2 linked regions of the Homo sapiens genome follow. The protein of the gene in region 1 purifies or fractionates together with the protein of each later gene. This does not show direct contact. Each region holds a gene or a part of one and is shown on either strand. Other genes may lie near its edges.

What was found.
Region 2: the proteins of KCNH7 (region 1) and LRSAM1 purify together in Homo sapiens (affinity purification with mass spectrometry; one large-scale study listed by BioGRID and IntAct). This does not show direct contact.

Annotation. Positions count from the first base shown.
Region 1 is NC_000002.12:162,835,968-162,840,200, forward strand, and holds the start of KCNH7 (voltage-gated inwardly rectifying potassium channel KCNH7), read right to left. Parts: upstream 2,801-4,233; 5' UTR 2,552-2,800; coding exon 2,476-2,551; intron 801-2,475; coding exon 570-800; intron 1-569.
Region 2 is NC_000009.12:127,475,510-127,479,009, reverse strand, and holds part of LRSAM1 (E3 ubiquitin-protein ligase LRSAM1), read right to left. Parts: intron 77-3,500; coding exon 47-76; intron 1-46.

The DNA.
Region 1 (4,233 bases):
GCCTTTATTGTTTGAATATGCACAGGTTAACTGGATCAAGGTAAAAGTTCCTATTTATCATCCTTAATGTTGTAAGAAGGAGCAAAAGAAACAAGAGGTGTTGCCTATCAACTAAAGCTAAAGAGCCAAGAGACATAACTGTAATAGTTTTAGTTTTAGATATAGTTTTCAACATAAATTTGCTTTGTGGAGTATTTTAAAGTTCAAACAAGTAACACTGTATCTGTATTTCTCGCCTACCAAATGCATACCAATGCAAGCAGTACATTGTTCATCTTTCTCTAATTCCTTAAAGAAAGGAGCATCTAAGACTGATTTGTAGCATTTTAACCTCAGTGACATTATGTTACTGTACTTTTGAAGAGATTACAGTACCCTTATTCAAAGAAAAAATTGTTTCTACCAGACCACTAATCAGAATACCCATATATGTTGGATCCCAAAATACTATATGCAAAGCATATATCTACAATTGAACATTTTGGGCTTCTTTGCATATGAACTTTTAATAGTCAAAATTTCTTTTCAATGGGATCAAATAGAAGGAATCCTAAATAGAGGAATTTTACCATTTTTGTGATAGTAGGTGACCTCCACTTTCCTCTCTTCTGACCCCAGCAATGCCTGGGCAATTTGGGCAATATCATGCCTCTTGGTCTCGGGTCCATGGAGAAAGTCGCAGGTGCATGGCTTTTGCATGACATCTGGCCTGGAGAAACCAGTCATCTCACAGAACCCATCGTTGCAATAAATGATGGCACAGTTCTGCACTCTGGCATTTGCAATGATAAATTTTTTATCTGTAATAAGAAGACAGTATGGCATCTTTGAAAAAGCTTCCACAATATTCTCCGTAACACTGAAGCAATTTGTTGCATAATAAGAGCTCTGAAATGCAGGTGCCTCCCCAAATTACTAATCTCTCCAGCCCTTATGAAAAAAGAAAACACAAGAAACCCCACAAACTTTAAATGTGAGATTAATGATCCTAAGTAATTTTAACAGAAAGTATTAAGAAACCACTCTTAAAATTGCAAGAATAGAATTTCCCAAATAGACTAGTTCTCAAGCCCTGCAACTGCGGGGGTTCCTAGTGGACACTCAGACAAGCAGCTGCCCATTGATATTTTCAGAATGTCATTTAATTGTAATGTAAATATTTTCAAAGTCAAACAGTGAAACATTCTGTAGTTGTCAGATTTCTCATTTCAACCTTGGCCCTTTGAATACAACTTTCTCAAAGTAGTTATTATTCTTTGGCTTCTCCCTATCTCTCTTAGGCATGTTACACACATCATGTTAAAAACAAAGGCAACTAGCTTTAGTAATGAAACTACTTCATATTTAATAGCAATTCAACAAGGCAAAGATTCACATTTTCATAATATATATTTCCCAAAAGAAAAATATTTACACACACACAGTAAATATCATGACAACCTTTTTACTTTTACTTTGGGAGATCCTTGAAGTTTTCTGTAGTAGCAGGAATTCTTAATATAAAGAGCTTATTAATTTACATCACAGATTGTATTTACTATTTCCACATAGATTGTGAAGCAGGATATACAAGTTTAGTTTGTACGCAAGGTACCAGATCCTCACATCACTAAATGCAGTGCTGAAATAACCGCAAAATATATGGCATACAAATGTATTAATATAGTTTTAAGAAAAGACCGAAGATAAGTTAACAAATACAGGATTTTAAATTAATATATTTATATAGCAACAATTTATTCCCTATATTTAGTCCACATGAGAACATTAAATTTCTGTGCATTCAGTCTTTGTGGGATTTACTTATTACACTTCAATTTTTAAATTTCTAGATGGAAATTTTAAGGGGATAATAAAAGAATAGAAATATTATTTTGAATAATGAGCCATTTGCATCGGGAACCAGCACAGATGAGATACTGCTTTTCCAAATTACCCTGCTTAGGATATATTTGCATTGATTCAATACAAAATTTAGCTTCTATAAATTAATAGCAAGCAAGCATCCGTGTCATACCACTGCTTTGCAGTTTAACCAAGGTAAAATATAGTTTGCATAGTCATTTACATCGCTACTACCATTTACATTCTCTTGTTCGAATAGTATGGTCTGCTCTGCTTCCGACTTTCAGAAAGTCTACAGTAAAACAGCCTCAAAATATAAACCCATGTTATCCTAGCACGTTCCCTTTAAGATAGTAGAATAGTAGGAAATTAAGTAGCAAGGCAGATAATGGAGCAGTGGTAGAGGAGGATCAAATTGCCTCCTATAATGGAGACCGTAATCTAAAATGTAAATCAAAATTAATATCAGAAGAACACTCCCGCTGCCATTCGAACCTCCTGGCTCGGTTTCACAGCCTCTTAAGTTGACAGAGCCTGGAGTTGCCGGTCTCCCCACCTTGGAAGCGGTGGACGCCAAGTGCACTAACAAGGCAGAAAGCGAGGGCGAGAGAAGAGAACAAACGAACTTACTTTGCCCTTCAAATTTCCGAATGATGGTCCCCAGAAATGTATTTTGTGGTGCCACATGCCCCCTGCGCACAGGCATGTTGGCCCCGGTCTTCCGAGGAGCGCTCCCCCGGAGCTCTGGAGTTCTCCCGGGATCTCTCCTCGGCTAGAGCCCAGGCCAGCGCGCGAGCCGCTCTTTGTGGCAGAGCATCCTCTTTTGAAACCAGAATTCTCTTCCCATTAGCACCACTTCTAGACACCCGCTTTCCCCACCGGAGTCCAATCCATTCCCCTCACCTTCCGGAGGGGGCCTCGCACCGGACTGCCGCGGGTGAGAGGGTTTGGGGGTGGGGAACGGGAAGGAGGCGGGGTGAGGGGAGGTGGCGGGGGAGGGAAAGAGGGAGGGAGCTGTGGGGGTGGGGTGGGAAGGGGGCGGGGAGTCACAAGGGCAATCGATCTGTTTCTCTTCTCCCAAACAGCGCCAATTTCCCAGTGCAAATGGGCTTAACCTGGCGGTTGCCCAGAGCAGTAAGGAATGGCTGAGGGGGGATGGAAGACTTGTGCCGGTTTTGCTGGAAGGAGAGAGAGAAAAGGAGGCTGGGGGTCGGCGGGGTTGACGTTTCTATCCCCGCCCTCTCCCCCTAACACACACACACACACACACACACACACACACACACACACACACACACACACACACGCTCTCTTTATCTTGGTAGCTTGGGCGCCGCCACAGCTCGGATTACTCAAGCGTGCTTTAGCGGAAGCCAGCCAAGAAATCTCCAAAACTCAGTGACAAACAGCTACTCTGGGAAGGTGATCTCTACGGCCACCGGCCACAGGGCTCCGTCCCTGAGCTCCTCACGCCGCAGTAGCTAAAGCACCCTTAGCTGCAAGGAAAACACAGGTGGGAAAACAGTTTCTTAATGAGGAATATTTGTAAGCTCTGTTGGCGCTCAGCAGGTTGAAGATTGACAATGAACCACCTAAGGGTGCAGATTTAGCCTCAGGGTGCAGCTCGGATCCCTGGGTTCAGCGGAGGTGGGTGCCGAAGCCCGAACTGAATTGGCACGCAGGTCCCTGCCCAGCGCTGAGCCGCGCCTCGGGAAAGACTGAAAGCTGCCCGTGCCGCTGAGCATGCCCAGTTTCTGCCTGAGTCCCTGGAGGGTTGCAAGATTGGGGGTTGATTTGGTCTCCAGGTGCCGTAGGCTGCGAGGAAGATGAGACGGCCAAAGATGAGAAGGCCAAAGATTGCGAGCGACTAGTACAAAAGAAGGAAAGAGTTTGAAATAGGTGAGGCTGAGCGCCAGGGGGAAGGAACAAAAGGTGGGTGGGGCTAAGAGTTACCAGCCTTGGCTGTGACCTCCGATGCCACTCATCTCCGGAACACACTAGCCACATTCTGCTCTCCTCCACCATCTCTAAGGAGCCATCTCATATAGGATAGAAAAGGGTTCAAGGGGCGGAATAGAGTCCTCTTCCTTCTCGCTTCTCAAAGGCTGCCAGCGTGGGAATCTCAGGGTATACAGACACTTCTGTTCAAATAGTCCTCCTGGAGACTTAGGAAAATAAATGTGACAAGCTGTGCCAGGAAAGCGTGTTTTTGAAGCTGTTTTTCTAGTTTTTCTTGGTTCTTTTCCCTTCATTTTTGTTATCTTCCCCCCACCCACCCCCTTGAACCTAATAGCCCCTCTCCACGCCCCTTTCTCTAAATGGAATTTGCTAAGATTTCAATCTACTCAAGCAGAACACAGATGAATCTCTCATTTCCTGCTGGAGATA
Region 2 (3,500 bases), on another chromosome or scaffold:
TCTTTAATGAGAAAAGAGTGACAGAAGGGTAAAGGCATTTTCTTACCTTCCTCTTCTCATAGTCTGAGAACCTGTTCTGGGAGGAAAAAAAGACAGTGGTCAAGAGAGGGTGGCAGCAGTGGTTCTCCCTGGCATGGGCACCAGGAACCCCCGGGTGGCCTGATGTTATACAAACTCTGGCCCACCCCAGACCACTGCCTCAGAATGGTGGGGTCGGGGGATGAGGGGATCCGTATTGATCAAGGGCACCAGGTGGTTCCAGTGGACACCTGATGAGAACCCCTGGGCTGTCACTGTGTGCATGGCACTGTAGGAGGGGCTCTTCAAGACAGTTCTGGGATGCAGCCCTGAGCAGGGATGGTGGTCTGAAGAGCAGAGCAGGAAATGGGATATCTGATGCCCATGGATGTCTGCGTAACACACCTACAGCACCCGGTTCCAGTCCACCAAAATACTCACAGTGCACAAAGGTGTGGGTACAACTTCCTGCAGAATTATTCAAAAGAGCAAAAACACTGGAAATAACTCATACATCTATCAACATCTGTCCGTAAGTCATGGTGCATCCATACAGTGGACTATTACACAACCGCCAATGGGGCGAATGTGTGAGATCCCTCACCTGTGTGTAGCATGATTCTACTTTTGCAAAAACATCATCAAGAAAACTCAACTCTGAGCATATGTGTGAAGGTATTGAGTCAAAGGTCAAGAAGGACAGTCATTAATCAGTTAATGATGACTACCTCCAGGCAACGGGAGTGCAGGGTGGAAGGGTTGACATTCACTTGGTTTGTAATTGTCTGTATTGTTTAAATTTATAACAAGGAGCAGGTATTAAACATCAATAATGTAATGTAATTATTGGTGTTTAATTAATTAATTTATTATTGATGTAATTAAACAGCAATACACATATACACAAGAGTTAGGTTCTTCTTTTTTTTTTTTTTTTTTGAGACGGAGTTTTGCTCTTGTTGCCCAGGCTGGAGTGCAATAATGGCACAATCTTGGCTCACTGCAACCTCCACCTCCTGGGTTCAAGCAATTCTCCTGCCTCAGCCTCCTGAGTAGCTGGGATTACAGGCACCCACCACCACACCCGGCTGATTTTCTGTATTTTTAATAGAGACAGGGTTTCACCATATTGGCCAAGCTGGTCTCGAACTCCTGACCTCAGGTGATCCATTTGCCTCGGCCTCCCAAAGTGCTGGGATTATAGGCATGAGCCACTGCGCCCGGCCCACACAAGTTTTTTCTTTGTGATGGAGTCTCACTCTTGCCCACGCTGGAGTGCAGTGGCACAATCTCAGCTCACTGCAGCCGCGACCTCCTGGGCTCTAGTGATCCTCCCACCTCAGCCTCCTAAGTTGCTGAGACTGCAGGCACGCACCACCATGCCTGGCTAATTTTTTGTATTTTTGGTAGAGACAAGGTCTTGCTATGTTACCCAGGATGGTCTCAAACTCCTGAGCTCAAGCATCCACCCGACTCGGCCTCCCAAAGTGCTGGGATTATAGGCGTGAGCCACTGCGCCTGGCACACAGGTATTTTTTGAATGGTCCTTCTATTTAGTTATCCTGTTTTGAGAACAGGATCAGTCTCTGAATTATAAAAGCAGCAACCTATAAATAGGATTTTGCCTATACTAATGGTAGGAATATAATTTTAAAATTAATCTTCAATTATACAGATAACATCTCAATATATTCTCCTTGTAAAAGTTTGAAACATGGTATAAAAAACTAAAGCATCTACTGACCACTCCAGCCTAACCCTGGTTCCCCTCCCACCCCACACCTCCTGTCAGGTGTAACTGTCATTATCAGGCCCAAGGCATGCATCTGTACATATATAATTTGTGCCTTTGGGAAAGAAATATATTTGTATTTGTGTGCATATATAAACATTTTTTTAATCAAGTATAATCTATTTACTCTAATTCACCCAATGTTAGTGAACAATTCTATGAATCTTTATATATGCATAGAGTTCTGTAACCTCTAAACACAATTAAGATAGAAAACAATTCTGGCTGGGCGCGGTGGCTCATGCCTGTAATCCCAGCACTTTGGGAGGCTGAGACAAGTGGATCACTTGAGTTCAGGAGTTCGAGACCAGACTGGCCAGCATGGTGAAACCCCGTCTCTACTAACAAAATGCAAAACTTAGCCAGGCGTGGTGGCAGGTGCCTGTAATCCCAGCTACTCGGGAGGCTAAGGCAGGAGAATTGCTTGAACCTGAGAGGCAGAGGTTGCAGTGAGCTGAGATCATGCCACTGCACTCCAGCCTAGTGTGACAGAGTGAGACTCTGTCTCAAAAAGAAAAAAGAAAACAATTCCATCACCCTCGAAAATTCGCTCATGCCACTTCATCATCAAATCCTCTTCCCACTCCAGCCACTGGCAACTACCTGTCTGTTTCCTTTTTTTGTTTTGAGTTTTCTTTTTCTTTCTTTTTTGAGATAGGGTCTAGTTCTGTTACTCAGGATGGGGTGCAGTGGTGTAATCTTAGCTCACTGCAAACTCCAACCTCCTGGGCTTAAGCCATCCTCCCACCTTAGCCTCCCTCGTAGCTGGGACCACAGGCACGTGCCACTATGCCTGGCTAATTTTTTTGTATTTTTTGTAGAGACAGGGTCTCGCCACATTGCCCAGGCTGGTGTTGATTGAGTTTTCTTTTTAAACATAAGAATGGAAATAGACTAGCCCATCCTGTTCTGCAATCTGCCCTTTTCACTAATCCATGTGTCCCAGCGAGCCGAGGCTCAAATGCTCCATCTCATGGTGTGCACATGACCCAGGGGCAGTGCCTTCTCACTGACAAACATTTGGGGGGCATCCAATACTACAAATAAGGCTGCAATAAACACTCCTGCAAATGTCTCCTCATGCAAGCATTTATCTTGGGTATACATTGAGAAGCGGAACTTCTGGATCACGGGCTGTGCCCATGAAAATTTTTGACATCTGGCGGGTGTGGTGGCTCACACCTGTAATCCCAGCACTTTGGGAGGCCGAGGTGGGCAGATCACTTGAGGTCAGGAGTTCGTGACCAGCCTGGCCAACATGGTGAAACCCCGTCTCTACTAAAAATACAAAATTAGCCGGGCATGGTGGCGCATCCCTGTAATCCCAGCTACTCGGGAGGCTGAGGCAGGAGAATCACTTGAACCCGGGAGATGGAGGTTGCAGTGAGCCAAGATTGCACCACTGCACTCCAGCCTGGGCAACAGAGTGAGACTCCATCTCAAAAAAAAATAAAAAAATAATAAAATCTTTTTTGACACCTACTGTCAAATTATCCTCCAAAGTTGTGATACCAATTTTCACTCCCAAGAGCAGTTTATGAGGACACCTGTTTTCCCATACTCTGGCCAACAGAAATTGTCATGTCAAAATGTGTGCCAATCTTGAGGAAGGAAATGGTATTTCAATGTTGTTTTAACTTAACATGCCTCTCCTCTGATTACCAGCAAAGTTGGCATTTTTAAATGTTTG